Linked DNA regions of Homo sapiens. The protein of the gene in region 1 interacts with the protein of each later gene in a biochemical or structural test. Each region holds a gene or a part of one and is shown in the gene's direction. Other genes may lie near its edges.

What was found.
Region 2: the proteins of PTPRD (region 1) and DDX54 form a complex in vitro, tested with the Homo sapiens proteins (one study listed by BioGRID and IntAct).
Region 3: the proteins of PTPRD (region 1) and CSNK1E form a complex in vitro, tested with the Homo sapiens proteins (one study listed by BioGRID and IntAct).
Region 4: the proteins of PTPRD (region 1) and BMX form a complex in vitro, tested with the Homo sapiens proteins (one study listed by BioGRID and IntAct).

What each region holds. Positions count from the first base shown.
Region 1 is NC_000009.12:8,313,696-8,321,389, reverse strand, and holds the end of PTPRD (receptor-type tyrosine-protein phosphatase delta isoform 1 precursor), read left to right. Parts: intron 1-1,423; coding exon 1,424-1,559; intron 1,560-3,447; coding exon 3,448-3,516; 3' UTR 3,517-7,144; downstream 7,145-7,694.
Region 2 is NC_000012.12:113,168,076-113,175,769, reverse strand, and holds part of DDX54 (ATP-dependent RNA helicase DDX54), read left to right. Parts: intron 1-612; coding exon 613-734; intron 735-833; coding exon 834-895; intron 896-998; coding exon 999-1,130; intron 1,131-3,206; coding exon 3,207-3,417; intron 3,418-5,865; coding exon 5,866-6,000; intron 6,001-7,694.
Region 3 is NC_000022.11:38,314,061-38,321,762, reverse strand, and holds the start of CSNK1E (casein kinase I), read left to right. Parts: upstream 1-4,329; 5' UTR 4,330-4,603; intron 4,604-7,593; 5' UTR 7,594-7,605; coding exon 7,606-7,681; intron 7,682-7,702. Other genes in the region: TPTEP2-CSNK1E (casein kinase I), read left to right, coding at 7,606-7,681.
Region 4 is NC_000023.11:15,517,113-15,524,806, forward strand, and holds part of BMX (cytoplasmic tyrosine-protein kinase BMX), read left to right. Parts: intron 1-816; coding exon 817-881; intron 882-1,084; exon of another isoform or gene 1,085-1,815; coding exon of another isoform or gene 1,816-1,867; intron 1,868-5,233; coding exon 5,234-5,475; intron 5,476-7,694. UniProt on the Homo sapiens protein: Non-receptor tyrosine kinase that plays central but diverse modulatory roles in various signaling processes involved in the regulation of actin reorganization, cell migration, cell proliferation and survival, cell adhesion, and apoptosis.

The sequences.
Region 1 (7,694 bases):
TAAAGTAAGATGATAAAACCAGTAAATTGAAAAGTTGTGAGTCCAATGTCTGTTCTTTTTTTGAAAATACTTAGTAGAAAGTAACCCAATGTTTTTGTTGCATTCGAGCTATCAAATCAAGGTAAGATAGACTCTGGCAAGGTAAGATAGACTCTGGAGTACCTAGATCATTCAACAAAAAGATAATAAATCTCAGTTTCTCACAACTAAGAGAGACTTTCAAGGTTAAAAGGGACCTTCAAGGTCATCTGCTTCATCTTAACAGAAGGTTTCACTGCCGCTAGACATCTTCAATCACTTCTTAAAGACTGACTCCGCTTGGATTTTCAAACCTCACTTAACATTTCTGTTTAGACTGTAGAAACCCCATTTATAAAGGGACACACTATTTATATATGCCTGTCAGCTACACCCTCCAGTAAATGAATCCATCTATTTTCTACAGCCCGTGCCCAAGTGTTACACATGCTGTTTAATTAGGATCCAAAAATGCAGGGATTTTTCAGATTATTCACTGTTTCCCTCATTATCTGAACTTCCCATTGCTTTCCTCCTTAAGTGCACAAGAGCTATGAATTAATTTTCTTTCTTGCTACCGTGAAGATTCTGGAGTTATCTTAAAACAATGAAGACAACAGAGAGAAACTCAAAACCTTTCTAATGTGGTTTTAGTTGCTGATCATGTAAAAATGGTAGCTAAGTTCAGAGATCAATGGCTCTTAACCATTTTTTTTTAAGATTAGAGACCCCTGTGAGAATCTGTTGAAAGTTCTAAGTCTCAAGAAATAAGAAAACAACATAGTATTTACTTCATGTGTACGTACACTTACAGGATAGTCATAAACCCTCCTGAAGACTAAGTGAAAATCACGTATATACCCTGTTATACCATCTCTTTTCTCATAATAAAACCAGTGTAAACATTTGACTAGTTATAGGCAAATACATTTAGGTTATGGGCATCGCATATGTATTTTAAGTAACTGCAAAATGTGAACAGTGTGATAGAAAAGTTGAAGATGCCAAATTCACTTCACCTTATTCTGAATTATTTCATACTTTAAAAATATTAAGTAGGCAGGTTGTAAATTTCAGAATCTCCATGAATATTATAAACCTATATGTTATTTACCCTTTCTTTTCATTTGTTATGTTTCCTTGGTCTTTCTAAAATGGTATAAATCCCCATTGAAAAGACCTTTTATTAGACTTACTCCTAATTACTTCATCCTCATTATCACATGCTGTTACAACTCAGTATCCCAAGAGTAATCATTTGATGAATGTGATACCATGTTTTCCTGAATATGGCTATAAAGAGATACGGAGTGTGGAAGCTGGTAGAAGTATGTCCACACCCAAGCAAATGTGGCCAAGACTGTGAACATCTCACCCAGTAACATCGCCTTTGTTATTGTGGCAGCGCGGGCGTTGGAAGAACTGGAGTCTTCATAACGCTAAGCATTGTTTTGGAAAGAATGAGATATGAAGGAGTTGTAGATATCTTCCAGACTGTCAAAATGTTAAGAACACAACGACCAGCTATGGTACAGACAGAGGTGAGAAAATCCATTGCATTTTTCGCATCTCAAGAGCCTACGTTTTGCTAGCCTGGACCTCCCGGACTCCATACTCTCTCAACACCAGACACAAAATACTGTGGGGAAAGCATCAAACTGTTTAATAATTTTGAACCTCATTTTCCCCCTTTTTAAATGGGATGAGATTATTAGTGTCTTAGTGTTGCTATAGAAATTATGTGAGATTATATGTTAGATTGAGCTATGTTAAATTTTACTACTGGACCATTTTTGACCAATAAAATGGCAATTTCATAAAATTCGTTATATTCATAGTCCTATAATATAAATATATAAATATATAGAAAGCATAATATTTAGTACATAATATAATCTCAGCCCATTTAACTTCTCCATTCTCCCTCTGTATGCCTACAGAGGTATCAGCTCTTCTATATTTCATGTCTTAACAATGGCCATTCAAAACATTTTGATTCTGGATAAGCCTAGAGATATTAATATTAGCCCCTCATTTCCTATTCCAATAATTAATATGGAAATTTGGATATTTCTCGTAATAATAAGAGTTTATGATATAGCCAGTCTGGTCTATTGAGCATTCATTTCTAAAGATAATATTACTGATAGAGTTTATGTTCTGCAAAAGGCCACCAAATTATACAACTTATATGTGTTCCTCAATTCATCATCCACAGTATCTTTCAGACGGATTTCAAAGTAGTGCAAGTGTTTGGCTTGCAATAGTCAAAACATTATGCCAGCTTGACAAACTTAATGGGTCTTAGGGGTTACAGAGGGAAATTGGACATTTAAAAAGCCTTAACACTCAGCCAAGCAACTTACTGTGACAAGATAGGAAAGTAAACACCATTTATTTTGCATTACCAACCATTTTTATTACAGAAAAATGCACATTTAAGCAAAATAGAAACTATCTGTCTACTTTCAGCCCGATTGGCCACTGAAAATAGGTTTCTTTTATGGGGAAAATCCTTTTCCTCATCCCTATAGAGAGCTGTAAATTGTGATTTTTCCATCTCTCCAACAATGCTTCAATTTATTCCAATATGATAGTGTTCTTCGTTGTCTGAAAAAGGCCATGCTTCATACTGCTTTTTTTTAGTGTGTGCCTCTCTAAAACAGACAACTAGCAATCACACAGAATTGGGCTGAATTTACAGGTATTTTTTGATGTGGGCAGCCAGTCCTGTGAAGCCATTTTCAGGGATGGAAAGCTTGGAAGTCCAGTGCCCTGTGTAAATGGATTTGTGTGCCTGGTGTGCCGCACCAGCTACCTTCTGGCTGTATATGAACATCATATGTAAGTGAGAGAGACAGCCAAAGGGTAGCTGAAATGACTGTGAGTGATTCTCACTGCAAGCTCTACTGTCCAAACATAATTTTTTAAAAATTCAAATTCTGTTGGCAGTAGTTCAGAAGATAAGTAAATTCAGATTTTTCTCAGGACAGTTTGTGTCTGTATCAGCCTCTCTTAAATATTTAAACTGAGAATTAGTTATCTTGAATAAGCAGATAATTGTAAAGGATGATTTTCATCATTATCTGCTTATAAGGCATGTAAGAAGTTTATGTGTTCAATTGGTGGTAATGGTTTGATACTACTTGGAAAACACTTGTCTGGGAAGGTAATGTTCACTCGACCTGCCACTGCTTGGAATTGGGAGATCGTTTTAGTCAAATTGATTGGCAAAGTTAATCAACACCCCATGTGGCTTTTTCTTTGTTCACTATAAACAATTGGTCATTGGATTAGACCAGTTGACGAAAGTAGTGATTTTGCCCCTATATAGATGTTATTTTGTTATGCAATATTGATTTTTATTTTTCTATTAAAATATGCTCATGGTCCCTTCTTTTGCTTCTCCCCATTCATTGTCTCCTGCAGGATCAATATCAGTTTTCCTATCGTGCCGCACTAGAGTACCTGGGCAGCTTTGACCACTATGCAACGTAGAAACCCCTGACCCATTCTGGATTTTTACTACAGGCCCTTCAATATCCATGGAGTCTCTTCTGAGCCATACAGGGCACTTGAGAAGTCCTTCTTAACTTCTAGCTAACAACTACTTAGTGGGACTATTACACACAAAACAAATTAAAAACAAATTATTCCAGGTGGACCAAGAATTCACAGTTTAATAATCTAACCTGAAAAATAATGAAGAGAATCCTGACTGATGAGGCATCTGAAGGATTTTATTTACAGATACCTCAAGGATTCAAAATCAAGGGAAGAAGAAATCACAGCAAAGAACCACCATCTTATTCAGGATTGCTTGAAAGGTGCAAGGAGAAATTGCCAGAATGCTGCAGTTCAGCACAAGATATGTGCTGGTGTGGCTTCTCACAATGAAACGGACTCTGCTTTGACATCGCCCCTTCCCACCATACTGCTCATAATAACATTTTAGGGGGAAAGGGGAGGGAATGTTTAAAAAGAAAGTCCTTGATTTAGTTTTTTAGTATTGTAAAGATACTGCTGACCTGTGCTTCATTTCTAACTGTGTAAACTTTTTTTTAACAAAATGTATCATTCGATAAAGTGAATTTTAAAAAAGTTACATAACTCTTCATTTTTTTATTTCCAAATCGTAGGTTTTTTTAAGCTGTAGAACTGTTATCTGTAATATCTTGCTGTAGAAATATCAAATCATTTGAAAATTTGCACATTTTTGTGCAAAACTCAATCTACAGTATCAGTCTCGTCAGATATATTAATTTTACACTTCAGTTTTGATTGGTGAGAAAGTACCCATTCTCTTCAAATAATCAAAGATAATTATTATTTTGTTTTGTTTTTGGAATCAACAGGGAGGCGCAAAGTATAAAGTTGCTGCTAACATATATACATATATATCCATATTTTATAAGGGTGTCTATGTATATATAGACAGTGTGTCCACACAAAAAATAGATACAGTTATCAGTCAGTCAGTTCTTCCATGATTTAGTTTTTTTAAACGTAGAAAAGCTATTGTAAACATCTCTTTCCATTTATTCTTAATTTTTTGACATATTGGTATTTCTTTAAAGGGAAATGAGGAATGCACATCAGTGATTGATTGTCAAACCTCACCCCCTGATTTCCTACCTAATCTACCCCCACCTAACCAATCAATCACATCCACAAATTGTTTTGTTTGTTTGTTAGTCAGGCTTCCAACAAAGTTCAATATTTCTAACACTCTAGTGCAATAAAAATTATTATTAAATAGCTAAGAGGTGTGCATGTGGGAAAGGTCAGTGCATATCCCTTTAGGAGGGGAGAATGTTGTAATATATCAGCTATCGAGTTGTTTAAAAAAAGTGTATTCAATCGTATATTGTCTATAGTATGTGCTATGAAATTTGCATTTATGATATGTAACAGGGGCAAAGCCAAATTCATGTTACTCTGTTCAGTCAGAAACATTTTGTGGCATACAGCATTCCTGGGAAGTGCTGTACTTTGTTTCGTTTTGGTTTTAGTTTTGCATTTAGAGTGCCTTATAATTGATGCCTATTTTAATAGCATTTCTTTTTAGCTTTTGGTTCGTATTTCCATTCACTGTTCGTATCTGTTACTTTCTATTAAAGCATTATCTGTTTACCACATGTACAAAAACTCTTTGAATAATATGCATTCCTAGTTTTCAGCCAAGTCGGGGATGTTAGTGATTGTACCAGCCCAAAGCACTTGGATAATCAGGGCCCTTCTTCCTTTTATAATCAATCATCAACATCAGAAAAAGCTACTTGTTTTATTTATATTCCCTTCCAAATCCGCTCTGGAACATGCAGTAACTGCACCAAACTTATTTTAGTAACAAATATCATTGGCAACTTTGGAATATATTTGATATTCCATTAGGATTTTTCTAAAAGGGGAAATAAACTATATATATATATGTATCTTACCCCCAATTCTTCCAACAGAATTTCTATAGGAAGCCATGGATGATGGCATAAGTTTGCCACATATTACATGATTTTAAATAATCCTCAAAATACCCAAGGAACTCTTAAAGAGTTTTGGTATGAGTATACTACTTTGGTTTAATTTTAGCTTCATGGATGTTCTGCATGGAAGGATTTTTGTTTTCCACATTTTCCCATTGCTAGCAGAGTGAAATCCAAGAGACCAAACATTTGCAAGCATTGTATTTGAGCACTTTTGTAAAAAACAAAGAAAAAGAAAAAAAAGAAAATATATATAATACTAAAAAAAAGTATCTAGAAGGCTACCTCAGAATGAGACTCTCTAACCTACATCAGAACCAGAGAAGAATGTGCACTATGTGGGTCTGTTATCATTATTTTCTTTTAGTTTGTATCTTTTTGGAGATTTATCCAAGTGCCAGATTACTCAGTGCTATAATTTTCTTTTAGTTAAACAAAGGGGGTCAGACAGACATTGCATCATCCAGACATGCCTTGTTGGACATGTAGAATCCGATGGAGCACTGCACACCAGAATGATTGGCCAATGAGCAGCTTCTCTCCCTGAAACAATAACTGCCCATTTGGCAAAGGGAAAGATGACAATAATCAGAAGAAGAAAATGAATGGGATGCATACCATAGACGAACGAGGCGGAGACTATTGCGGGAATCTTACTGTTCAGGAGCTGTTCCTAGAACTAACTCCCTTACTGTCATTGATGTGCATTCCACTCTGTGCTTTTCTGTACAACCATTCAAGTTTTAATTTCCCAGGTGAACCATCTTTATCTGCCATTACCACAAGCTTTCAAGTTTCCAGTTATTTTCATCATCATAACCAGTACGGTGCTATTATTTACCTATGTACGTGTAGTTATGTATAATTTTGTAATTAGTTACAATGGTAAAAAAAATCAAAATATATAAAAAGTGATTTGTACAGAACTTTATTTTAGCTCTTTTTTAAAAATGATTTGCATGGTTAGAAAACGGCGAGGACAGCCAGGGGAGGGAAGGGCCTCTAGGGAACTTTGCACTTTCTATACCTTTGTACTATGCACTGCCCTATTGATTCTACACCCAATAATGATATTACTTGAACCCATCTGTAAGAAACTGCTTCGGAAATTCATTTGTGTGTATGTAAATAACACAACATAGAAACAGGAAGGGAAAAAAGTCTGCAGTAATGCACGTATTTTTTTTCTTTCCTGTTTATTTTCGGTTTTGCTTTAAGTCCTTTTATTTTTAATTCCCTTTTTGTTTTTCTTTTTGGGTTTTGGTTCCTTTTGGGTTTATGGGTGCCCTGATACTCCAGCAGAGATCAGAAGGCTACAGATCCATTCTATCCATCCGTTATGTGGCTTTGCCATCCCAGCTTGGAGTGTCTTTACAAAGATAATAACAGTTGTGTTCTTTGCTCTCGTTTTGGATGCATAGACTGAAAAATTAAAACAAATAACTTGTAAAATGGCTTGTTAAAAAATACAATTACCTCTAATTAGTAGTACGCGTAAATGTTTTACAGAATGAAAGGCGTGCTTTTTATTTTCTTACTTCGTTACATTGGTGGCGAAAGAAGTCTGTATGAAAATCAGTTCTTTGCTGACACAAGTTCCATTTGTTACAAATGAATTCTAATAAAAATGTCAGTGTTATGCAGCCCTGGCCTTTGCTTTTGTCCATGCAAACACTTTGGTTTTGAACTGACTATTTGTTCTCTCTTCTCTTCTGGTTATCTAGTTAGTTCCTTGTACTAGTAAGAATTCTGTTTACCGAGAGACTACTGTTTACAAATATCTACCTTGAGGTAAGCACTTTTCACTGGTAAGCAAACAGAGACTCAGAGAAATAGTTTTTCCAAGTTCACAGAACAAAGAGGCATTGCTTTCATTCATATCAGAGATCACAGGCAATCTTTGATTCTGTGGAAGATTACTATATAGAAATTTAAGTGCACAACTGTATATATACATCTATATGTATGTATGTATTTTCATCTCGAAACAACTTTCATGCACATAAAAATAGCTCCATAGTGTTAATTTATTCATACCTTTGGGAACATGGCTAAGAAAATACTTGGTTTGCGTTATTTATTCAGTAATTCAATATGATCAAGTACCAATAATGGGTCAGAATTGTTCTAGGTATTGGAAATGCAGCTCTGAACAAATGAGATACTGCTGCTGTTTGCATACAGACTACAGTC
Region 2 (7,694 bases), on another chromosome or scaffold:
TTGCCCAGGCTGGAGTTCAGTGGCATGATGTCGGCTCACTGCAAGCTCCGCCTCCTGGGTTCACGCCATTCTCTTGCCTCAGCCTCTCGAGTAGCTGGGACTACAGGCGCCCGCCACCACGCCCGGCTAATTTTTTTGTATTTTTAATAGAGACGGGGTTTCACTGTGTTAGCCAGGATGGTCTCGATCTCCTGACCTCATGATCCGCCCGCCTTGGCCTCCCAAAGTGCTTGGGATTACAGGCCTGAGCCACTGCGCCCGGCCCCAGCTAATTTTTTATTTTTGTAGAGATGGGATCTCGCCTAGGGTGTTCTTGAACTCCTCCTGCCTTGGCCTCTCAAAGTGCTGGGATTACAGGTGTGAGCCTCTGCAGCCAGCCTGGGCTGCTGTCATTTATTTCAGCATGAGTTTGTAAGAACATGACCAAGACAGATTCCAGATTTCAAGGTTATTGTTGTTTAGGATGAAGTCACGTGATAAGTGTGAGTGGGCTGAGTTAGAGTGAGGCAAGCCCTGGGACACTGCAGAAGTTGTGGGGACAAGGATGGCTGCGGTTGGAACTCCAGGGAGTGAAGGCCCCCTCTGACCCAGTCCTGCCCTCTACCCTTCCAGGCTTTTTGAAATGGGTTTCGCAGAGCAGCTGCAGGAGATCATCGCCCGCCTCCCCGGGGGCCACCAGACGGTGCTGTTCTCCGCCACGCTGCCCAAACTGCTGGTGGAATTTGCCCGGGCTGGTGCGTGAGCTGGGGGTGGAGATGGGGGCTGGGGGTCAGGCTGGGGCCTGGGGGCCAGTCCCTCTGCGACTCCCCCACTTTCCCCCATGTCTCCTGCAGGCCTCACGGAGCCCGTGCTCATCCGGCTTGACGTGGATACCAAGCTCAACGAGCAGCTGAAGGTGAGGCTGCACCTGTCCCATCCCAGGAGGTTGTGTCCAGGTGGGCCCTGCAGGCCCTGGGCCAGGACCCCGTAAGCCAACACGTGATGCCCTCTCCCCACAGACCTCCTTCTTCCTCGTGCGGGAGGACACCAAGGCTGCCGTGCTGCTCCACCTGCTGCACAACGTGGTGCGGCCCCAGGACCAGACCGTGGTGTTTGTGGCCACGAAGCACCACGCCGAGTACCTCACTGAGGTGAGCAGGGTCCTGAGTGGGAGGAGCACCTCCTTCAGCTGGAGTTTGGAGCTGCAGTTCCCTGTGCAGTCACTAGAGGGCAGCACGAGAGCGGACCAGGAGCCTGGGCCTGGGCTCAAGATGGTCATTTTTATTTTTATTTTTTATTTTTTTGAGACGGAGCCTCGCTCTGCCATCCAGGCTAGAGTGCAGTGGCACAATCGTGGCTCACTGCAGCCTTGACCTTCCAGGCTCAAACAATTCTCCCGCCTCAGCCTCCCGAGTACTTGGGACTTCTGGCGCATGTCACCATGCCCAACTAACTTGTTACTTATTTTTATATTTTGTAAAGACAGGTTCTCACTCGGTTGCCCAAGCTGGTCTTGAACTCCTGGGCTCAGGTGATCCTCCCACCTTGGCCTCCCATAGTACTGGGATTATAGTACTGGGATTATGAAAACATTTCTTTTTTTTTTTTTTTGGAAATGGTATCTCACTCTGTCGCCCAGGCTGGAGTGCAGTGGCACGATCTCAGCTCACTGCAACCTCCACCTCCCAGGTTCAAGTGATTCTCCTGCCTCATCCTCCTGAGTAGCTGAGACTTCAGGCGCCACCATGCCTGTCTAATTTTTGTATTTCTCATGGAGACGGGGTTTTGCCGTGTTGGCCAGGTGGGTCTTGAACTCCTGACCTCAAATGATCTGCCCGTCTCAGCCTCCTAAAGTGCTGGGATTACAGGTGTAAGCCACAGCGCCTGGCCTAAACTTTTTATTGTGAGAAAATTTCAAACCAATTCTAAGATCAGAAAATAATATGATGAACCCCGGGTACTCGTTATCTAGGTACAACTGTTACCAGCTGATAGCTGGTCTTGACCTTCATCCGTTAGTTCCCCTTACATCCGGGTTATTTTGAAGCCTGTCCCTGCCATCCTGTTATTTTCCTGTAGATTTTTAGTATGTGGTTTGTTTGACTTCTTAAGATTGAGGCATGACCTGCATGTAGCAAGCTGTGTGAAGCGCTGTTAGCATGTGTGAGTGGCTCAAAGATTTTTTTCATATGTGTTATGCCTGTGTGACCCCCGCCTGGGTCAAAGCCTGGGGAGTCGCTGTGCCCCAGAAGGCAGTGGGGCCCCTTTCCGTTGGTGCCTGCCTCCCTGTCAGCTACACCTGGGTCTGTTATCTGAGGACATGGTTCACTGGGTTTCACTTACTCCACACACAGTTAACAACACTCCCTCTGTGCAGCTGCTGGGGTCACCAGTGAATAAGACCAAAATAGTAATTTTTAAACAGTTGTTTTTTTAGAGAGAGTTTTGCTCCTTTGGCCAGGCTGGAGTGCAATGGCATGATCATGGCTTACTGCAACCTCTGCCTCCTGGGCTCAAGTGATCCACCCACCTCAGCCTCCGAAGTACCTGGGACTGTAGGCACAAGTCATGCCTGACCATGCCAGCTCATTTTTTATTTATTTTAATTTTTTTTGTAGAGATGGTGTCTTGCTGTGTTACCCAGGCTAGTCTCGAGTTTCTGGTCTCAAGTGATTTTCCAGCCTTGGTTTCCCGAAATGCTGGATTACAGGCGTGAGCCACCATGCCCAGTTTAAATAGTAATCTGTAAAGAACAGCTAGCACTCTCATGAGTGTTCCATGTTGAGACTCTGTTCTCAGCACTGTATATACTGACTCATGTGATCCTCATAATAAGGCACAAAGAAGGGGCAGTTATTCGTACAGATGAGGAAAATGAGGCATAGAAAAGTTTGGTAACTTGCCCAAGGTCACACAGCTTGTTTGTAGCAGAATCCGGATAAGGCTTGTGCACTGAGGTGGCATTTGCAGCTTCCCTGAGAGGGCCCTCTGCACACATCATCTCTGATCCTCAGACAACCCTGCAGAGAGGTGGGAGGTGTTGTAAGCTCCATTCCTCCCCAAACTGGCATCACCCAGCAAGCTGGGATTCAGACCAAGGGTGCCAGACTCCAGAACCCGTGGTCTTGTCTCTGCACCTCAGTGCCCGTCCCCCGCCATGGTCTGGCTTCCTTTCCTTTCTCCTCCAAGTCTCCTTCTCACTTTGCTACCATCTTTGCTCTGAGCAGCTGCTGACGACCCAGCGGGTGAGCTGCGCCCACATCTACAGTGCCCTAGACCCGACAGCCCGCAAGATCAATCTCGCCAAATTCACGCTTGGCAAGTGCTCCACTCTCATTGTGACTGACCTGGCCGCCCGAGGCCTGGACATCCCGCTGCTGGACAATGTCATCAACTACAGCTTCCCCGCCAAGGGCAAACTCTTCCTGCACCGCGTGGGTAAGCAGCCCGTGGCTGGCCCTGGGGCAGGCAGGGGTGCCGGATCCTGGCAGAAGCCGAGGGTACAAGGCTTAACTCTTGACACTGCACATGGGGTGGCTGTGGGCCTTGTTTTAGAGACAGAGCCTCGCTATATTGCTTAAGCTGGTCTCAAACTCGCGATCGTGCCACTGCGATCCAGCCTGGGTGACGGAGCAAGATCTTGTCTCAAAAAAACCAAAAAAAAAAAACAACCCAATTATTCAGCTTATGGTTTTTTTGACTTTACAATAGCACCCATACAGCTGTTCTATTTTTTTCTTTCAGTACAGTATTCAATAAGTTACATGAGATACTCAACACTTTATTTTAAAATCGGCTATGTGTGGGATGATTTTGCCCAAGGGTAGGCTAATGGAAGTATTTGGAGCATGCTCAAGGCAGGCTGGCTGAGCTGCGATGTTTAGTGGGTTAGGTGCCGTGCGTGTGTTTTTGACGGCTATTGGGTTTATTGAGACGCAGCCCTTCGTAAGTCACGGAACAGCTGTGGTCTCATTTCAGAGATCACTGTCCCCCATTGCTCTCTGATGACATGGCCGTCATTTTGGTGTGTGTCCATTCTTCTGATGTTTCTATTTTAAGTTGTGGTAAAGTAGACATAGCATGCAATTCAGCATTTTGCCATTTCCCAGTGTGCAGTGGAGTGGCATTGAGTCTGTTCCCATTGTGCAACTGTCACCACCATCTGTCCCCAAAACTTTTTTTTTTTTTTTTGAGAGTCTTGCTTTGTACCCCAGGCTGGAGTGCAGGGGTGTGATCTCGGCTCACTGCAACCTTCACCTCCCAGGTTCTAGCTATTCTCTTGCATCAGCCTCCCGAGTAGCTGGGATTACAGGTGCTCGCCACCAGGCCCAGCTAATTTTTTGTGTTTTTAGTAGAGACAGGGGTTTCACCATGTTGGCCAAGGTGGTCTTGAACTCCTAACCTCAAGTGATGCATCTGCCTCAGCCTCCCAAAGTGCTGTGATTACAGGCGTGAGCCACCATGCTTGGCCCCAGAACTTTTCCATCTTGCAAAATTGAAGCTCTATCCGTCAGACAAAATCTCCTTATTCCCCTCCCGCAGCCCCTGGTAACTGTTATTCTACTTTCTTTGCCTTCTTTTAATTCATAAGTGTCATGTGGTGGGTGCACTTCCCCCTTGTTGCTGTCTGCTGTCCCCTAGTTTCTGTTGCTGTGTGGAGAGCTGGTTCTGCATGTCCCTAGGGAGGTCCCCAGGACGCCCCCAAAGGGAATTTCTTGTGCCTCACAAGACCAACAGTGCCGGTCAGACAACCTCAAATGAAATCTCCAAATGTCATAACACCTTGTTTTCCCAAGATACAGAGACAAACCAAAATATAATGCTATGTAGTGATTTAGGTACTTCATGCAAAATTGCAATCATATTGGGTGTTCTTTTTTATAACTGGCTTTTTGTTTTTTTCTTTTTACATCACCATACATCACGAATGTTTTTCGTTTACTATGAAATGTCATTCTGTGATGGGTTGGCACATCTTTTCTGTAAGGGGCTAGACATGAAACGTTAGGCTTTGTGGACCATACTGTCTCTGTCATAACTGTTCATCTCTGCTGCTGTCGTGTGACTGCTGCCTATTCATTTATATAGATAATATATAAACAAATGAGTGTGGCTGTGTTCCAATAAATCTTTATTTACACAGACAAGCAGGGGGCCGGGATCTCACTCTGTTGCTTGGGCTCTAGTGCTGTGGCATGATCATAGCTCACTGTAAGCTTGAACTCCCAGATTCAAGCAATCCTCCCAGCTCAGCCTCCCAAGTACTTAGGGCTACAGGCACACACCATCACATCTGGCTAATTTTCGTTTTTTGTAGACATGGGGTCTTGCTATTTTGCCCAGGCTGTTCTCGAACTCCTGGCCTCAAGTGATTCTCCCACCTCAGCCCCTCAAAGTGCTGTGATTACAGGCGTGAGCCACCAGCCTGGCCCTGTAGGCTGCAGTTTGCCCACTCTTTTCCTGAGCTGTTTAATTCCCACTGTGTGGCCATCAGCTAATTCACTTATCTAGTCCTCTACCCTTGAGACTTTAGTTTCCAACTTGGGGCTGTCCTAGTCAGGGCCACACTAAACCTCCTTGTGTGTGAATCTTTACATCTTTGCGGGGAATTCTCAAAAGTGGGGACACTGAAGAGTTTTGATCATGCTCATGAGCAGGGCCTTGCTGTATTTTTGCTAGTCTCCCAGAGCACTGTGTCAGCTTGGGCACACTCTCACAGATCAACCTAGGGACCGGGATTAAACTTCCCTGTGCGTAGGTGGGGACAGCAGCCGTGTGAGGTTCGAGGCTTGGCCAGGCTCACCTGCTCAGGGTCTGGCCTGTGGAACTCATGCTGGGTCCGGGTCCTTCTTTGCTTAATTAAGCTTGAACGTCTCCTTGCTGCAGGCCGTGTGGCTCGGGCTGGCCGAAGTGGCACAGCCTACTCCTTGGTGGCCCCTGATGAAATCCCCTACCTGCTGGATCTGCACCTGTTCCTGGGCCGCTCCCTCACCCTCGCCCGACCCCTCAAGGAGCCCTCAGGTGAGTGGAGGCTGGGTGGGGATAGGGGTCCCCGTGGAGTTCATGGGCCCTGTTTTGGCTGTGGGAGGAGGTAGGGCTGGGTTTGACCCCAGCAGAAGATGATTCCTTTTATTTATTTTATTGTATTTTATTTGTTTTGTTTATTTTTTGAGACAGAGCCTCGCTCTGTTGCCCAGGCTGGGGTGCAGTGGTGTGATCTTGGCTCACAGCAACCTCTGCCTCCCAGGTTCAAGCCATTCTCTTGCCTCAGCCTCCCGAGTAGCTGGGACTATAGATGCCCGCCACCACGCCTGGCAAATTTTTTATTGTATTTTTAGTAGAGACAAGGTTTCACCATGTTGGCCAGGCTGATCTCGAACTCCTGACCTCAAGTGATTCGCCCACCTCCCAAAGTGCTGGGATTACAGGTGTGAGTCACTGCGCCCGGCTGATTCCTTCTATTTTTTAACGAGACGGGGTCTTACTCTTGCTCAGGCTGGAGTGCAGTGGTGCGATCATGGCTCGCTGCAACTTCCAACTCCTGGGCTCAAGCAAGCCACTATGCCTGGCTAATCCCTCTATTTTAAACTCAGGATTTCCCACAACAATCCAGATTTCTGGTATCTACTGGGAAACAGTTGGATCTGGGTGCTAAGCTGTGGCACCCCCATTAGACAGGCTTCCTGGTCCCCTGCAGCCCCTGCCTGCCTCCCCTTCCTGTCAGTGTGGCCTGCCCAGCCCCTGCAGGCATCTAGTGTGTGACCCTATACTTGATGAGTTTTCAGGGGAGCGCAGCGGAGGGAAAGAGAGGCTGAGGCTCATTCAGACCAAGCCCACAGGACATTTTTAATTTATTTATTGAGACAGAGTTTCGCTCTTGTTGCCCAGGCTGGAGTGCAGTGGTGCAATCTTGGCTCACCACAACCTCCGCATCCTGGGTTCAAGCGATTCTCCTGCCTCAGCCTCCCGAGTAGCTGGGACTGCAGGCACACACAACCACGCCCAGCTAATTTTGTATTTTTAGTAGAGACAGGGTTTCACCATGTTGGCCACGCTGGTCTTGAACTTCTGATCTCAGGTGATCTGCCCGCCTCGGCCTCCCAAAGTGCTGGAATTACAGGCGTGAGCCACTGTGCCCAGCCGCCCACAGGACATTTCTGTATACATCCTAGAATGGGAATGCATGGGACAGACAATAGCAATCACCATGGCCTCCATCTGTGGGCCTCCAACTATGGGCCTCCACCTGCAGTCCTGCTGGTTCCCGGGCCCTGGACACATCTTGTCTCATTTGTCCATCTGTGCTAGAGGGAGGGCTGTCATCACCTCTGCTTCACAGATGAGAGAACGGCTCTGACAGGCCTACCCGCATGCACACAGCAGGGAGGTGGGGAGCTGAGATTCAGGCCCCCCCAGAGGCCCAAGACTCAAGCTCAGAGAGCTGAGGCGGCTTCCTCCGGACAGCCTAGCCAGTGGTCAGCAGAGAGCGCAGCCCTCAGAGCTCCGGGCCCCCTCTGCCTCGGCTGTTCACTCTTGGCTGCCAGTGGTGGTCTCTGTCCAGGCCACGGCCCCCTCAGGTGACCATGTGGCCCTGCAGTGTCCCAGCCCATGCCTGGAGGCGGCTGGAAAGCAGACACCATAGCAGAAAGTCTGGGGTCAGATGCAAGGGCACAGGAAAGGGCTGCGGGGCCTGGCCGGGGTGGGGGGCGGCCTGT
Region 3 (7,702 bases), on another chromosome or scaffold:
GCATTTCGCCATGTTATCCAGGCTGGTCTCAAACTCCTGAGCTCAAGCAACGCCTGCCTCTGCCTCCCAAAGTTCTGGGATTACAGGTGTGAGGCACCGCCTGTGGCCCAGCGCCAGGATTTTAAATTGGGAGACTGGGCCCAGACGTGGTGGCTCACACCTGTAATCCCAGCTTTTTGGGAGGCTGAGGCGGACGGATCACCTGAGGTCAGGAGTTTAAGACCAGCCTGGGTAACATGGTGACACCTCCATCTCTACTAAAAATACAAAAATTAGCCAGGTATGGTGGTGGACGCCTGTAATCCCAGCTACTCTGGAGGCTGAGGCAGGAGAATTGCTTGAACCCGGGAGGCGGAGGTTGCAGTGAGCCGAGATCGGGCCACTGCATTCCAGCCTGGGAGACAGAGCCAGACTCTGTCTCAAAAAATAAATAAATAAATAAACTGGGAGACCAGGAGGGCCTACCTCTGAAGGGGACTTGAGAAAGGTGAGAGGTGAGGGGGGTTGGTGCTCTGCGGGAAGAGCGCACCAGGCAGTGGAAACAGCCCCTGCCAAGGCCCTGAGGCCAGAGGTTCATTCCATGGGAGGCCAGTGAGGCTACAGGGCTGTGAGCAAGAAGAAAACTTACAGGAGCTGAGGTCAGGAGAGCCAGGTGCGGGGAGTGGAGGACAGATCCTGGAGGGCCGTTTTCAGGCCAGCCCTTGATGTTTAGTAAATCTATGAGTCCTTAGTCAAGACTGAGATTCCTGGGGCAGGTACTGAAATCTTTCTGGGTTTATCTGCAGCCATATCGTCATTATCTGGGAATTCCAGGGCTGTCCTTGGGATCCCAGCCCAGTGCTCCTGCGTGCCAAGTGATCTTGAAGGGTCTGAAATAGGGAGCAGGTAAAAAATGTCAGTTTGGGAACACAGTGGCTCACACTTGTAATCACAGCACTTTGGGAGGGCGAGGCAGAAGGGTCACTTGAGCCCAGGAGTTTCAGACCAGTCTGGGCAACACAGTAAGACCCCATCTCTATAAAAAATTTAAAAATTAGCTGGGTGTGGTGGTGCATGCCTGTAGTCCCAGCTACTTGGAAGGCTGAGGCAGGAGGATCGCTTGAGCCCAGGAATTTGAGGCTACAGCGAGGTATGATCCTGCCACTGCACTCCAGCCTGGGTGACAGAATGAGCCTCTAAAAAAAAGACAAAAGCCAGTTTGGAAAGGTGTTGTGAGAGCCACTATTCCTGAACCAATGCAGAGCAGCTGAAACCCAGGGTGGGCCCCTTGGGAGCTGGCAATTCACCCCACACCTATTCTAGCCTGATTTCATCTTCTTGTTGGCTTGCAGAGAAGGTAGCTAGGGGAACTTTGCCACACCCTTGGGTTTTTTGTTTTGTTTTGTTTTTTATTTATTTTTTTGAGACGGAGTCTCGCTCTGTCGCCCAAGCTAGAGTGCAATGGTACGATCTCGGCTCACTGCAACCTCCGCCTCCTGGGTTCAAGTGATTCTCCTGCCTCAGCCTCCCGAGTGGCTGGGATTACAGGTGCCCGCCATCGTGCCCAGCTAATTTTTTGTATTTTTAGTAGAAACGGGGTTTCACCGTGTTGGCCAGGCTGGTCTTGAACTCCTGACCTCAGGTGATCACCCGCCTTGGCCTCTGAAGTGCTGGGATTACAGGGGCGTGCCCGGCCCCACCGTTGGGTTTTAAAGTTAGGAGTTAAATCTGAGAGGAATCACTGTGAACCAAGTCGGAGAGAGAAGTCAGGCTGTGGGGCTGCTGGAACACGTAAGGTTTTGTTTTTCACTTTGGACCAGTCTCCCCTCCTCAGCTGGGTTTTGTGTCATGGTTTGCCTTCCCTTATAGCTTCACTGCAAAGCTCTTTGGAAGGGCCCACACACAGGTCTTCCAGGGATAGGAAGGACAAGGACTTGGGCCCACAACTCAGGCAGTGGACAACAGCATGTCCTTCCAATGGCAAGGCAGGGAGGCTCCCTAGCAGGCCTGGGGATGAGCCGGGCTCCTCAGCCTGGCTGGCCCAGGGAACTGAGCAGGATCTTAACTGGGGCAGGGGGTGGGGTGGGGGTGCTGGGGTGGGAGGTGTGGTTACAAGTCCTGAATGCAGAGGGGAGAACGTGAACGTGCTGCAGTCAGACCTGGCGATCTGGCTGGGTTAGGAAGGGGCAGGGGGTCTGTTCCAGCCAGGCCCAGTTTAAGGGAGAGGTTGATCTGTGCCCTTAGGCAAGCACTGGGAGGAGCCTGATTCCTTCTCTGAAAGAATACAGTGTAATCTGTTGTTGTTTGAGAGGATTAAATGAGATAACAAATAACCTCCTCTCCCAGGGCTGGTTGCCTTGAAAGTGCTGAAGAAGAGGAGGGCTTTGGGAAGCAGGGCCCAGGTTGGAAGGTTAGGGGTGGTAAGGACTGGAGGACACAGGGGCAGACTTCACCCCCTGCTCAATTGTGCCCAGGCCTCTCTGCCTGGGCTCATGTGAGGAAAGAAACAAAATGGGTGGCGGTGGGGTGGCGCTCAGGCCGGCTGAGAACTTGGGCCCAGAGTTACCGGATCTCCTAATGCCCCCAGAGAAACAGGGAATCTGGATCTGAAATATGAAATCTTCCAGTTTTAAAACTTTGGGGAGTGGCCAGGCATGGTGGCTCACGCCTATAATCCCAGCAGTTTGGGAGGCCGAGGCAGGCGGATCACTTGAGGTCAGGAGTTCCAGCCCAGCCTGGCCAACCCCGTCTCTACTAAAAATACTGTGTGGTCCTGGGCAAAAATTAGCCAGGTGTGGTGGTGCACATCTGTAATTCCAGCTATTCAGGAGGGAGGCTGAGGCTGGAGAATCACTTGAACCCAGGAGGCAGAGGTTGCAGTGAGCCGATATTGAGCCACTGCACTCCAGCCTGAGCCACACAGCGAGACTCTATCTCAAAACCAACAAAAACAAAAAGCAAAAAAAAAAAAAAAAACTTTGGGGATTAATTAACAAAACAACAACAGAAAGCACCGCGCAGGCCAAGTAAAGCCCACCACCTGGCTGGTGACCCCCTGCTCTGGCAAAGGTGTCACTGAAGGCAGGCCCTCCTGGGAGGAGGCTTCTCACTCTCCTGCTCTTGGAAATGGGCTCTAGATAGACCCAGTTTCCTGGTGATCGCTGGGAGAACAGAGCTGTCCTGTTGGGCTTTGTGGTCCTGGGCAAAGCCCTTCCCCTCTCTGGGCCAGTTTCCTGGCCGGCGAAAGGACTTAGTCTGTGGGGCTCCTGCCCGTTTGGACACGTGTGTGACTCAGTCCCTCAGCCTCGAGGAGGGAAGATACGGCTATTATAGAAGTGACTCCTCCCAGGAACTGTGCTTCCGGGATTGGACGCAGGGCCTCAGGCATTTTGCGTGTCCACAGTCACAACTGTGTGAATATAGGTGTGTCATAATTGGAAGCTTTGCATGGCTCAGTGTAAATATCATCACTTTAATGACTTTGTTCTGCAACCTTTCATCGCGGCTCTGCATGCCGGTAGAAGCTTTTATTAATTCTGTGACCTGGGGAGGACAGGGTCCTTCCTCCCATTTGCTGTTTAAGGAAACCCAAGCTCAGAGCTGGGAGGTGGCTTGGCTAAACGTGCACCACTCGGAGCCCAGACTCAAGTGTCGGTGCTTTGGTACTTGTGGCACCCCTCCTTCAACAGGGGAGAATGAGGTTGGGATCTGAGGGGTCCTCTCTGTGCCCATCACAGTTTGAGCTTCAGGGAAAAGAAGAAGAGGTCTTTGCCCTTCGTTTTTCCACGGGAGGAGAATGTATGAGCCCAGGCTACCTTTCTGGGCCTTGTGTCGACATCCCTAGCTGTCTCCTCAAATCTCTTGCCCTGAATCAACCTGGCCTGTGTTCTCTGCGGCACTCGGAACCTGGAGGCGGACTGAGCCTCCAGCAGTCTAACATCTTTTGCAGTGTCGTGAATAGCCGCCTGTTTTCGCAGGGGCCCAGTGCTCTGCCTGGAGAGGAGAGAGATCCTGGCAGGCGGGGAGAGGAGACTTTGGGTCTAGACCCTCCCCTCCCATCCCCTCACCTCCGCTTTTTGTGCGCCCTCCTCTTCCCTCTGTCCCCCCCGCACCCCGTCTTTTCCACCTGTGCCCTGGACTGCATTAGGGTGTCAGTATCTGTGTGCTCCCCCACCCCCACGCGTAAGCCCGCGCGCCTGCACTGAGGCTGGGGAACTGCGTCTCGCAGCTGCGGCCCCCAGCGCGGAGGGCGCGGGCCCTTTAAATCCTCCGGGGCGGCGGCGGCGGGCCGGGGATGACATCAGCGGGCGGGCCCGGGGCTCAATGGGAGCCGGCGGGCGCGCGCGGTGCGAGAGCGCGCGAGCCGGCGGCGGGGGCGGGCGGGCGGGCAGGAGGCCGGGAGGAGGGAGGCGGCGGCGGCGGCGGCGGCGGCGGCGAGAGCCCAGAGCCAGAGCCCGGCCGGGGCCGAGCGGAGCGCGGCGGCGGCGGCGGCGGCGGCGGCTGGGCCGGGAGAGGCTGGCGCGCCGGGCGGCTCCGCGAATCCTCCGGCATCCGCCCCGGCGGGCCGCCCCCGCCCGCGGCAGCCCCCCGAGCAGTGGCCCGGCATCGGCGCCTTCCCGGCGGGGTAAATATCGGGGGGCCGCGGGCCCGCGGAAGGGTGCAAACCTGGGGGGAATCGGGCTCCCTCAGCCTCTTTGTTTTTGCTGGAGAGGGAGGGAAGGGAGGGCAGACACACGCGCGTTCGCGCTGGGGTGTAGGGGGGGCAGCCCGGGCGCCGCCCGCTCGGCCCGGCGAGGACAAAGGCGCGGCTGGGGACGAGGAGGAGGGGGCCTGTTATTTTGCAGGCTCGCGGGGGAGGCCCCCCGGCCGGCCTGCCTCCGCTTCCCCCCGCTGGGCCCTCCGAGGCCCCGGCCGGCCAGGCGGCCACCCCGGCTGTGATTTGGGGACGCTGAGGGAGGGGGCTTGGGGTGCTGGGCGCCGGATACTGTTGATTCGGGCCCGCGTAGCGTTTCATCGGACAATCACCGGCGCCCCCTGCTCTCCCGGCCCCGGCGCCCGGACCTGGGGGTTCGCAAGGCTGCGCCCGCTCGTTGGATGACGGGCGTTTGGGGGTCCTAAGGTGAAGAGGTGTGTGGTCACCAGGCCACTGATTTGTTTTTCTTTGTGGAGAGAAAGAAAGGGGTGGGGGTTATTTGTCGGATCGGATTCTCCCATTTTTGTGTGAGAGATTGATGTCTTGCAAGTCTCTAAGGAACGCAAAACAGTGTCTGGGTGTCGTTAGAGGATTCCCAAGCTCTTGTTAATACCCTAACTCGAAGTGGGGTGAGCCCCCTCCCCAACTTTTCCCTTAGTTTTCTTGCATATTTTCTTCCTGGCATAGCCTCCTTCCTGGAGAAGGATTTGGAGAGAGGAGAAGGGGACACAAGTGTCTCAAGTTGCTTCCAAGCAATGCCTGTGTTTGGGTCTCCTTTGCCTTCGTTTCTATGATGTCCCTTCAATTTTTATTTTAATCGTCCGAGGGACAAGGGCCCCGGCTCAGGGGTAGGCGATGGTGTTCGGGGAGTAAGAAGCACTGCCCGTGTGCCATGCTGGTTGGTAGTTTGTCTAATTTTTTTAACCTGCTGAAACTCTTGAACCTTTATATCCACTTTTCCCCCCACTTTGTTTATCTCCCCCCCTCCCCCATGGGAGAAGCAGCAAAAGAACTGAAAAGCCTCTCCATTCCTGAATGAAGCTTTTCTGCTCTCCTCTGGGAGGCTTTTTGGGTATTGGTGCCGGGACAGTCTAGGCTCCCCCAGGGACCTTGGACCCCTGGGGTGTTGGGGAGCGACTGGGGGTCTGGGTGGCTGGCACATAGCAGTCAGGGGGTCCTGAAGGGCTTGCCCCTTCCCGCTCTCGTTCTCTGCAGACAGCCGGTGAGTGGGGAGAGACTGGGGGGTCATGTGCAGTATATTTATGTAAGACACCCAGACAGAGGGCACGGGTATTTATATAACCCGGCGTGGGTATTTATGTAATATAGGATGCGGGTATATTTATGTTCCTTTCCTAACCTGCGGGTTTCCTGGCTGCCATGTGTGGTCTCTGAATTGGTGTTGGCAGAAAGTGGACTGAGGTGTTGGGGGGGGGTTGCGTGCACACCCCCCCTTACCCCCCAACAGGGCTCACTGTGTGTGCCTGCTTTTCTTTCTTCCGTTGGAGTGTACACACTCGGGAAGCTGGACGTGTGTGTACGTGGGATGTGTGGCGTGTGGGTTTCCTGCAAACGTGGACTGTGTTCCCCTGGCAGCGTGGCACCTCAGCTGAGACAGGCCAAGCATATGGGCAGCGGCCCTTGATTGAGAGCCCAGAGTTTGGCCAGCTCTGGTGGAGGTCCCTGCCTCGTGGTTATTGGTGGAGGGCTGGTGAGCTCCTTGGGAGCCAGGTGCCGGGGTTCCCTGTCTCTCCTGGGATCTGCCCACTGTCCCTGGAATCCATCTCCCTCCCAGGCTGGCCTGGTTGTTGGGGGCAGCACTTGGCACGGGCAAGGGGCTGATCTTCTGTGCCAGCACAGCTGCTCTGCAGTCTTCCTGTTTTGCCCTGTTTGTGAGTGTGGGAGACCACCAGGTGGGACAGCCGGAGCCCTGTCCTCGGCGAGGCTGTACCATCTGCAGGGTGGTGTGGGACAGGTGGCATGGCCTCTGTGAGCCTGAGTACCCTGTCTGTGAAAGGAGTTCCCTCTTGCTAGTCCTTGATGCTGGTCCTCTTGTAAACACCCCTCCCCCTGTTTACTGCAGTCCCTGGTCCCTGTCCCCACGGCAGCACTGCCTCCAGGCCTTCAGTTTCCTCCTCTGCTGACCAGGAACAGGGTGTCCGGACTTTTGCCCCAGGCCAGAGCAGAGGGGTCCCTCCTCTGCCCCAGGCCAGAGCAGAGGGCTCCCCCCTGGCCCTGAGGAAGGAGAGAAGCTGCTCACATCAGAACTCCTCCTCCCACCCATCCGGGGCAGGCGGCTAAAACCCTGGCTCAGTCCCCTTTGTTGTTCTATGAGGGCCCTCTTAGGAGACCCTCCTAGTCTTAAAGGACGCCAGCTCCAAACAGTTTATCCAAGCGGCTATGGGCCTCCGTGTGAGGTCTTGGTGTCATGACGTAGAGATGGGGAGGTGGCTGGAAGGTGGATGGTCGAGGGCATTCTTTTCTGCCTTCCCCCCAGTAGGGGATGCGACTTTCTCCTGCAAGGCGTGCTGGGCACTGGCGAGGTCTGGCCTCTGGGCAGGGGCAGTACTTGGGAAGACCAGGCCAGGCTGTGGGAGCCTGGGGGGTAGGAGGTGTAAGAGGGCTGATGCCCGTTGTGATCCCTTGAGAAGCTTCTTTTGAGGGGCCCCTGAATGAGCATCCCCCAAAGACATGCTTGCTTGGCTGCTTCCTCTCTGGCCACACTGAAACCTGTCCTCAGCCTGCCTTAGCTGTTCCCCAGGTGTGTGGAGTGCAGGCTGTGGGCCACCTGACACCTGCAGAATGTGGTCTTCGAGAATGCAGGTTTTCGAGTTCCTGGTGGCTCTGCCTGGCCTTGGTGGACTGGACCCCTTTCCCGGCTCCCCACGTCGCTGACCCTCATGTTCCTGCTTCCTCTGCAGCAAGAGTGAGCCATGGAGCTACGTGTGGGGAACAAGTACCGCCTGGGACGGAAGATCGGGAGCGGGTCCTTCGGAGATATCTACCTGGGTAAGTGTTCCTAGCTCCAGC
Region 4 (7,694 bases), on another chromosome or scaffold:
TAATGTTAATACTGGTCATTTTACCCCCAAAAAATCAATTAATAAATATTCATTGTGTTTTCCATCTTAATTAGACTATACAGTGAATATTTATTAATCTCAACTAGATCACATTGCTCTATATACTCATGAATTATAGTTATTTAATGAACTATACAGATTGGTTGCACATGGGTCTTCGCTCCACTGTAAGGGACTGAGGAGTAATGTCTCCTTATGGTATTAATCATTTTCCCCAGTGGTTTTGTCTATGGTCTATTTGGTCTATTATCATTACCTAGCAGGTCAGATTCCAGCTTTGACAATGCCCTAACTTTCTGGAAGGAGCAGGAAAAAGGCCAGAGAGAGCACTGCCTTGGGATTGCCTTCCTAGGCTCTGTCTGGATGACACTCACCATGTGTTCTGGGTGCCACAGGTGCTGTGCCTCTGAGGAAAACTACAGAGTGTAGAGGTGTTGCAGCTCCTGAGCAGCTGTAATACTGTCTATCTGTCCAAGTATAATTTATTCCCTTGGCTTCTTCTGCTGAGCTACTGGGAAGTCCATGGGCATAACAACTAAAAGAGAAAAAGTTAGGTGTCTTTATTTCTTTTTGTCCAAGATGCCTTGATCCATCCTCTTTCCAGGATACATGGCCTACATAGGAGTTGGGCCTTATATAGGAAAGCTACAGAATCACTCCAGATGTTGTGTCTGGATTCACTTAATCTGGAGTATTGCTCACACAAGCTGGTTCATTCTTTTAATTCATAACATTGAGTGTTTCTCTTTGTTTTGTTTAAAGTTCCTTCTGATATTACTTTGTTTTAATGTTCAGATGCTAATCTGCATACTGCAGTCAATGAAGAGAAACACAGAGTTCCCACCTTCCCAGACAGAGTGGTAAGTCAACATTTTAAAAATGTTTTTCATGGTCAGGATATATTAAATAAACCAAGAGTTGCCAGATTCAAGACTAGAAAATGTGGAATTCATTTAGACTTCTCAGCAAAGAGAGAAAAACCATGAGCTCTAGATAATAGCTATGGGTGGTATTGAATAGCGGATTCAAATATAGAACCATTGTAATATCTCATATTTTTGCATTTCATTGTTGTGTCTTTTCCTAGCCAGTAAGCCCATAAATAGTCACCAAAAAAAAAAAAAGAAAAAATGGGTGCATGCGGGAGATGTCCTTAAGATGGCATCACACATAACAGGCAGCTGTTATTAGCTGTCATTCTTTCCTTACCATCAACATGGCCAAGACTGCTTTGTGGAAGTATCCTGGTGTTGAAATGAAACTCTATAGGACAAAAGCAGAAAACAACATAATTCTTTCCCTCCATTATCCCTTCAAAGCTATTCAGTGGGCTTTCTTCCCTGCTTCCAAATAAAGTCTTTGCCAAATTCCATAGTTTTGCAGTCATTCTCAAATGATAAAAATGTCCCCATTACTTGTAATCATAAGAACAGCCTCTGAATTGTTCCATCCAATGTTATTATCACATGACTGCAAACATCATTCCAAGTTAAACATCTGTCACCTAGCTTGGGCCTGCATCACCTGGCAGCATGCTTTTGGGGAGGGATTTTGGGGGGGCTGAGATTCATGGCCCTTTCAGAGTTAGTTCCAAGGAAGATGAGGTCTAATTAAAAAAAGACACACATAGCTGTTTCTATCATGATTTGGTGGTGGTGGTATCGGAGTGAGTTTTCCAGCACTGATTCTTTATCTCATGGGAGACTTTTAGGAATTTCCTACTGAAGGGCAGATCCATATGTAGTTTTATGACAGGGGAGAGATCTTGATCCTCAGTTCTTGGATTTTCAGCCCTCAATCTTTCAAGATGGCTGTCAGCCAACTTTTTCCCAAGAGTGGAGTTGGCCTATAAGAAAACAAACAAAACCTTGATTGCTCTGGTTAATTAAGCTGTATGTAGCTCTCTCTCGAAGTACAGGCTACTGCTGTCTTTTTGCTCTACTCTCTTGGGTTCATAGCCACAGCCTTCTGTTTTTAGGGTTCCCAGGCAGGTGTGAGCCTCCTCAAATGCCAGGATACACAAAAAATGGCTTCCCATTGGTTCTCTGGAAGTTCACCTGAAAGCAAGGGGACATCTCCGCCCATCTATTGGATCTATGGTGTCTTGGGTACTTATTTTCAGCTACACACATTCGCACACACTTCTCTCTTTCTAAGTAAAAGCCACATAATTTTCATGAATCAACATGAAAGACAAAAATAATCCATTATTGTAGTAGACTGAATAATGTCCCCCAAATTTCATATCCATGTAGAACCTCAGAATGTGACCTTATTGGAACTAGGATCTTTGCAGATGTAATTAGTTAAAGATCAAGATGAAATCACACGAAAGATGAGAGTGGGCCATAAATCCAATGACTAGTAAGATGAGAGGACACAGAGAGATACACAGAGGAGAAGGCCATGTGAAGACCTAGGAAGAGATTGGAGTTATGTTACCACAGGCCAAGGAACACCTGTTTCTTAGTCCATTTGTGCTCTACTAAGGAATACCTGAGGCTGGGTAATTGATAAAGAAAAGAGGTTTATTTAGCTCACCGTTCTGCAGGCTGTACAAGTAGCATAGCACTGGCATCGGCATCTGATGAGGGCCTTAGGCTGCTTCCACTCATGGCAGAAGGGAAGGGGAGCTAGTGTGTGCAGAAATTGTATGGTGAGAGAGAAGAAACAAGAGAGAGGGAAGGGAGATAGCAGGCTCTTTTCAACAACCAGCTCTCATGGGAAATCATAGAGTGAGAACTCATTCACTACCATGAGAATGGCACTAGGCCATTAATGAGGGATTCGCCCCTATGACCCAAATACCTCCCATTAAGCTCTACCTCCAACACTGGAGATCACACATCAACATAAAATTTGGAGGGGTCGAATATCCAAACCATAGCAACTTGGAACCACCAGAAGCTGGAAGAGGCAAGGAAAGATTTTATCCTAGAGGCTTCAGAATAAGTATGGCAATGCTGAAATGTTGATTTTGACTTCTAGCCTCTAGAACTGTGAAACAATAAATTTTTGTGGTTCTAATCCACCAAACTTGTAGCAATTTGTCATGGTAGCCCTAGGAAACAATTATAATCGTTAGGAGTTTTACTTTGTTATTAGCAACATTGCTGTTTGGGTTTGAAAATATGTTTCAGTCCTGAAGCTTGAAAAGTATGGCCCTCTAAAACACCTAGGAGAAACGCCCAGATTAGGCAAATCTATAGAAACAAAGGGTGATCAGTGGTTGCCTGGGACCAGAGTAGGGATGAGAATTGACTGCAAATAGGTATGAAGGATCTTATTGGAGTGATGGGAAGACTGGGCTGTGGTGATAGTTATACAAGTTGATAAATTTACAAAAGTCACTGAATTCTGCACTTTAAAAAGGATGAACTACCAATAAAGTTTGTTTTGACAAGTCTAAGAGCAGAAGATAATTAAGAGCCAGAAACCATTGCATCTAGTCTCCAGCAGGGAACTTTTTGGCCAATATATTGAAAATTATCAGCTAGGCAAATCAGTGGCTAAGGGTTCATAAGCCTGTTTTGATTATAAGCTTCCCAAATGAACCAGGGATCAGAGGGTATCATGTAAAGTATGTTTTTCTTTGTTTTGTTTTTTATCAGAGTATTCAGTAGAGGGCTTATTTTCTGAATGGAGGAAATAAAAATCAGCTCTCTAGTTGTTCTGTTCAAAGAGATTTCCTTAAATGATTTCCATTTAAGGAACTTCCTAGTGCATTTTTCTTTGGACATAACCCACTTCACAGCTCATAAATAACACTGTCCTGCATAATTAAAATTTCCAGAATGTCAAAGCCTTAACTCCAAGTAAATGAAATTTCTGAAAAACTAAAATATAGCATGAAAAAAATATTAAATGCATCTCTTTCTGTCACACACGCACACACAGACACACACACACATATTGTGAATTTTTAACTGAAATATAACATTAACATAGAAAAGCACACAAATCCTAAGTGTTCAGCTTGATGAATTTTCACAAACTGAACAATTCTGTATAATCCACCCTCAGATAAAGAAACACAACATCACAGAACCCCAGGGACACCCTGATGTTCCCTTTCAGTCACTACTACCCTCCAAAAGTAGTTGCTAACCTGATTTATAACATCATAGATTGTTTGCCTGATTTTGACTTTTATATGACTGGAATTATAAAGTGTGTAGTCATTTATTGTGTGTCTTCTTTTCTTCAATTTGTGAGATTCGCTTATTTTTTTAGTATGTGATTATATTTACCGTCATCATTGTATAGAATTCAGTTGTGTGAATATACAACTGTTTTGGTTTCTTATTACTGTTCTAACAAATTACTACACAAATTTAGTGGCTTAAAGCAACATACATTTATTCTCTTATAGTTTGGAAGATCATATGTCTAAAATGGGTCTGCACAGCTGTGTTTCCTCTGGAAGCTTTAGGGAAGATTCTGTTTCCTTGCATTTTCCAGTTCCTAAGGGGTACTTACATTTATTGGTTCCTGGCTCCTTCCCCTGTCTGCAGAACCAGAAGGTTGCAGGACCTCTACTCTCTAACCTCTGCTTCCATCCTCACAGCTCTCTAATCTCTGACCACCTTATCTCCCTTTTATAAAGGCCATTTTGATTACATCAGGCCCACCCCCACAAAATCCAGAATAGTTGCCCCATCTCGAAATCCTTAATTACAATCTGCAAAGTCTCTTTTACCACGTAAGGTATTCACAGGTTCTGGGAATTAGGACATGAACATATTCGGGAGACCATTTTTCAGCCTTCAACAACCACAACATGTTTATTATTTTATCCTCTTGATGGGCATGTAGGCAGTTTCTAGTTTTTATCTAATTAAAATAATTCTGCTATGAACATTCTTTTACAGGTCTTTTGGTTTCCCTGTTGTGTATATATACGTAAAATTTATGAGTCATAGGGTATGACCAGATGCACATCCAGATTTACTAGATTCTGCAAACAAATTTCCAATGTTGTTGTACCACTTCATACTCCAACCAGCAAAATATGAGTTCCAGTTGCTCCATATCCTTGCTCATACCTTTCTTCTTTCCTTGCCTCTTTCCTTCCTCCCTTCCTCCCTCCCTTCCTCCCTCCCTTCTCTCCTTCCTTTCTCTCTCTTTCAAGAGCTGATATACTTAATTGTCAGTTCCCGGTACCTGAATCTGTGCCTCACTGTGATGTATTAAAATTTCTTCCCCTCCAAAGCTGAAGATACCTCGGGCAGTTCCTGTTCTCAAAATGGATGCACCATCTTCAAGTACCACTCTAGCCCAATATGACAACGAATCAAAGAAAAACTATGGCTCCCAGCCACCATCTTCAAGTACCAGTCTAGCGCAATATGACAGCAACTCAAAGAAAATCTATGGCTCCCAGCCAAACTTCAACATGCAGTATATTCCAAGGGAAGACTTCCCTGACTGGTGGCAAGTAAGAAAACTGAAAAGGTAATCCCCAGCTTTCAGACGGGCTGCCCAGCATGTAGAGTAAACACTACCCCGGCTGCCCTGGACCTCAGCCTCAAAGCTGTTGATCCAGGTCTTAGGCTGTCCTCTCAGAAAATGTTCAGTGCTTGAGCCAGAAGTCTGGGGAAGCAGTGGCCCCACTGGGGCTGAGAAGCATAGATTTTCCATTTAGATTATCCAATCTAATGATCTCAGTAATGCCTGATCATTGTATTCCCTTCCCTTTCTCCTCCTTCTCCCCCCAAATATCTCCACATTCCAGAATACAGAATCTTTAAAAATCTATCCTTTATATGAAAGAGCTTAGGATGGGCTTACTTTTGTAATGTGCTTCAGTATCACTAGCCAAATGGCAAATAGCATTTCAAGCAAGGCCATGGCTTGCCTTCTTGGAATGTACAACCTCACCTCTCCTGACCTGATTAGTCTTCTCACAGTTTTTAGCCTAAAGATTCTATCTAAAGCCAGAATTGAAAATTCCTTGAAGGCAACATGTAAATTGTGTATGTATGTATCTCTTGGTATGGCACTGAATTTGCCCTACACTTGATGCCCAATAAATGTTGAATTGAATTGCAAGATGACCATATGGAAAGGGTCAAGTGACTCCCCTTCCTTATTTCCTGTCTCAGACCTCCTTCCTATCATGTTGTCTACTCTCTGCCATCTTCTCACTCAGTTATCAGCATCCCTGCAGGGAAGTCATGTCTGCCTTTCCCCACAATGGATACAGAGCATCTCTCTGACTCACCATGTATCTCTTTTCTTAGTTATTTTTCCCATGTCCTTTTATTCCTTTGTTCTTTCCATCTTCATCATTTTTGCCTAAAGCCAATTACTGAAAGTTTCAATAATACAGGGCCATATGGAATTTGAAATAATGTAAGTGTGTTCTTCTTGATTTTTTTTCAGTATAATAAGCCATGGTCCCTTTCATTCCAAAGTGGAGCTAGAATCCTAGTGTATTAATCTATACCTGGTGCCCAAGGTATGGGGTTACATTTGTGCGCCTGCAGCCCACCATTCTTGTGGAAGGAGAGGATCAGTAAACCCAGTTGCAAGGAGAGTGAAAGTCATGTTAATTGTGTTCCAGGTCCCCTTCCTGACAGAAACTCCAGTGATTCATTGAGAGAGGTGTGAGGTGAAGCTGACTGCCCTGTTTTCAAATAACCAGGAGGAACTGTCGATTCACATGGGGTTGCTGCCATTATTGAGTTTTTGACACTCCTTTAGATTTGCACCTCCTTAGGTTTAGTCCCAACTGTGGATTTTCCCTAGAACTTCAGGAAGCTAGTTATTTTAACAAAGGATTGATTGATCACCTCTTAGCATGAGCAGCATTGCATCTGCAAGTAAATTATAATAATTGCTAAAAGGTCTTCATGGAGCTTGACTTTTTAAAGTGCAGCCATGATTCTTATCTCATATATGGGATAATACTTTTTATCAACTTTCTGTCATTCTTACAATCTTCCCTGAGCTTCTTTTTAATCTACTTTCTGTTTAGTAAGATAATCTATGCCCCCATTAAATCATTCAAATATTACAGAATATTCCATTTACATTCCCCTAAAATGTTTTCTATGCACATGTGGCCATGTGCATACAAAAGCAAGTAAGTTCTCACGATACAGTCTTTGTCATTTGTTCTTTTCACTTGACATCTTCAGCATTTTTCCTATTTGAATACATGAGGATACACCTGACTTTTAAAATTTCATTTTCATTTAATTTTGGTGAAATATACATAACATAAAGTTTACCATCTTAATTATTTTTGAGCATACAGTTCAGTAGTGTTAAGTACATTTACATTGTTGTGCAAATTGCCTGATTATTTTTAATGTCTGTAAGTACCAGTTGTATAGATACTAGGTAAACCTAAGTGATGCACTATTGATGGACATTCTCTAAGTGTTTTTAGAAACAACAAGGCTAAATAAAAGCTATTCTAGTGGGCAAGGCTCTTTGGGAAGGTGGAGAGAGAGGCATTTTAGAGTTTAAGGGCTTTATCTAGGCATTCCTTGAAATAGAGCCAGGGGAGCATTTCCTTGCTAAGGAAACTTGTTTCTATGAACTGTGGTTTTGAAAAAAGTCTGGACTATGAAGGCAAACAGGAAATAGGTTCCACATTCCAGATAAAACAGCCTTTAGACTTTGAGAGGTAGGCACTTCTTCATGCTCTGCTTAATACCCCAAAT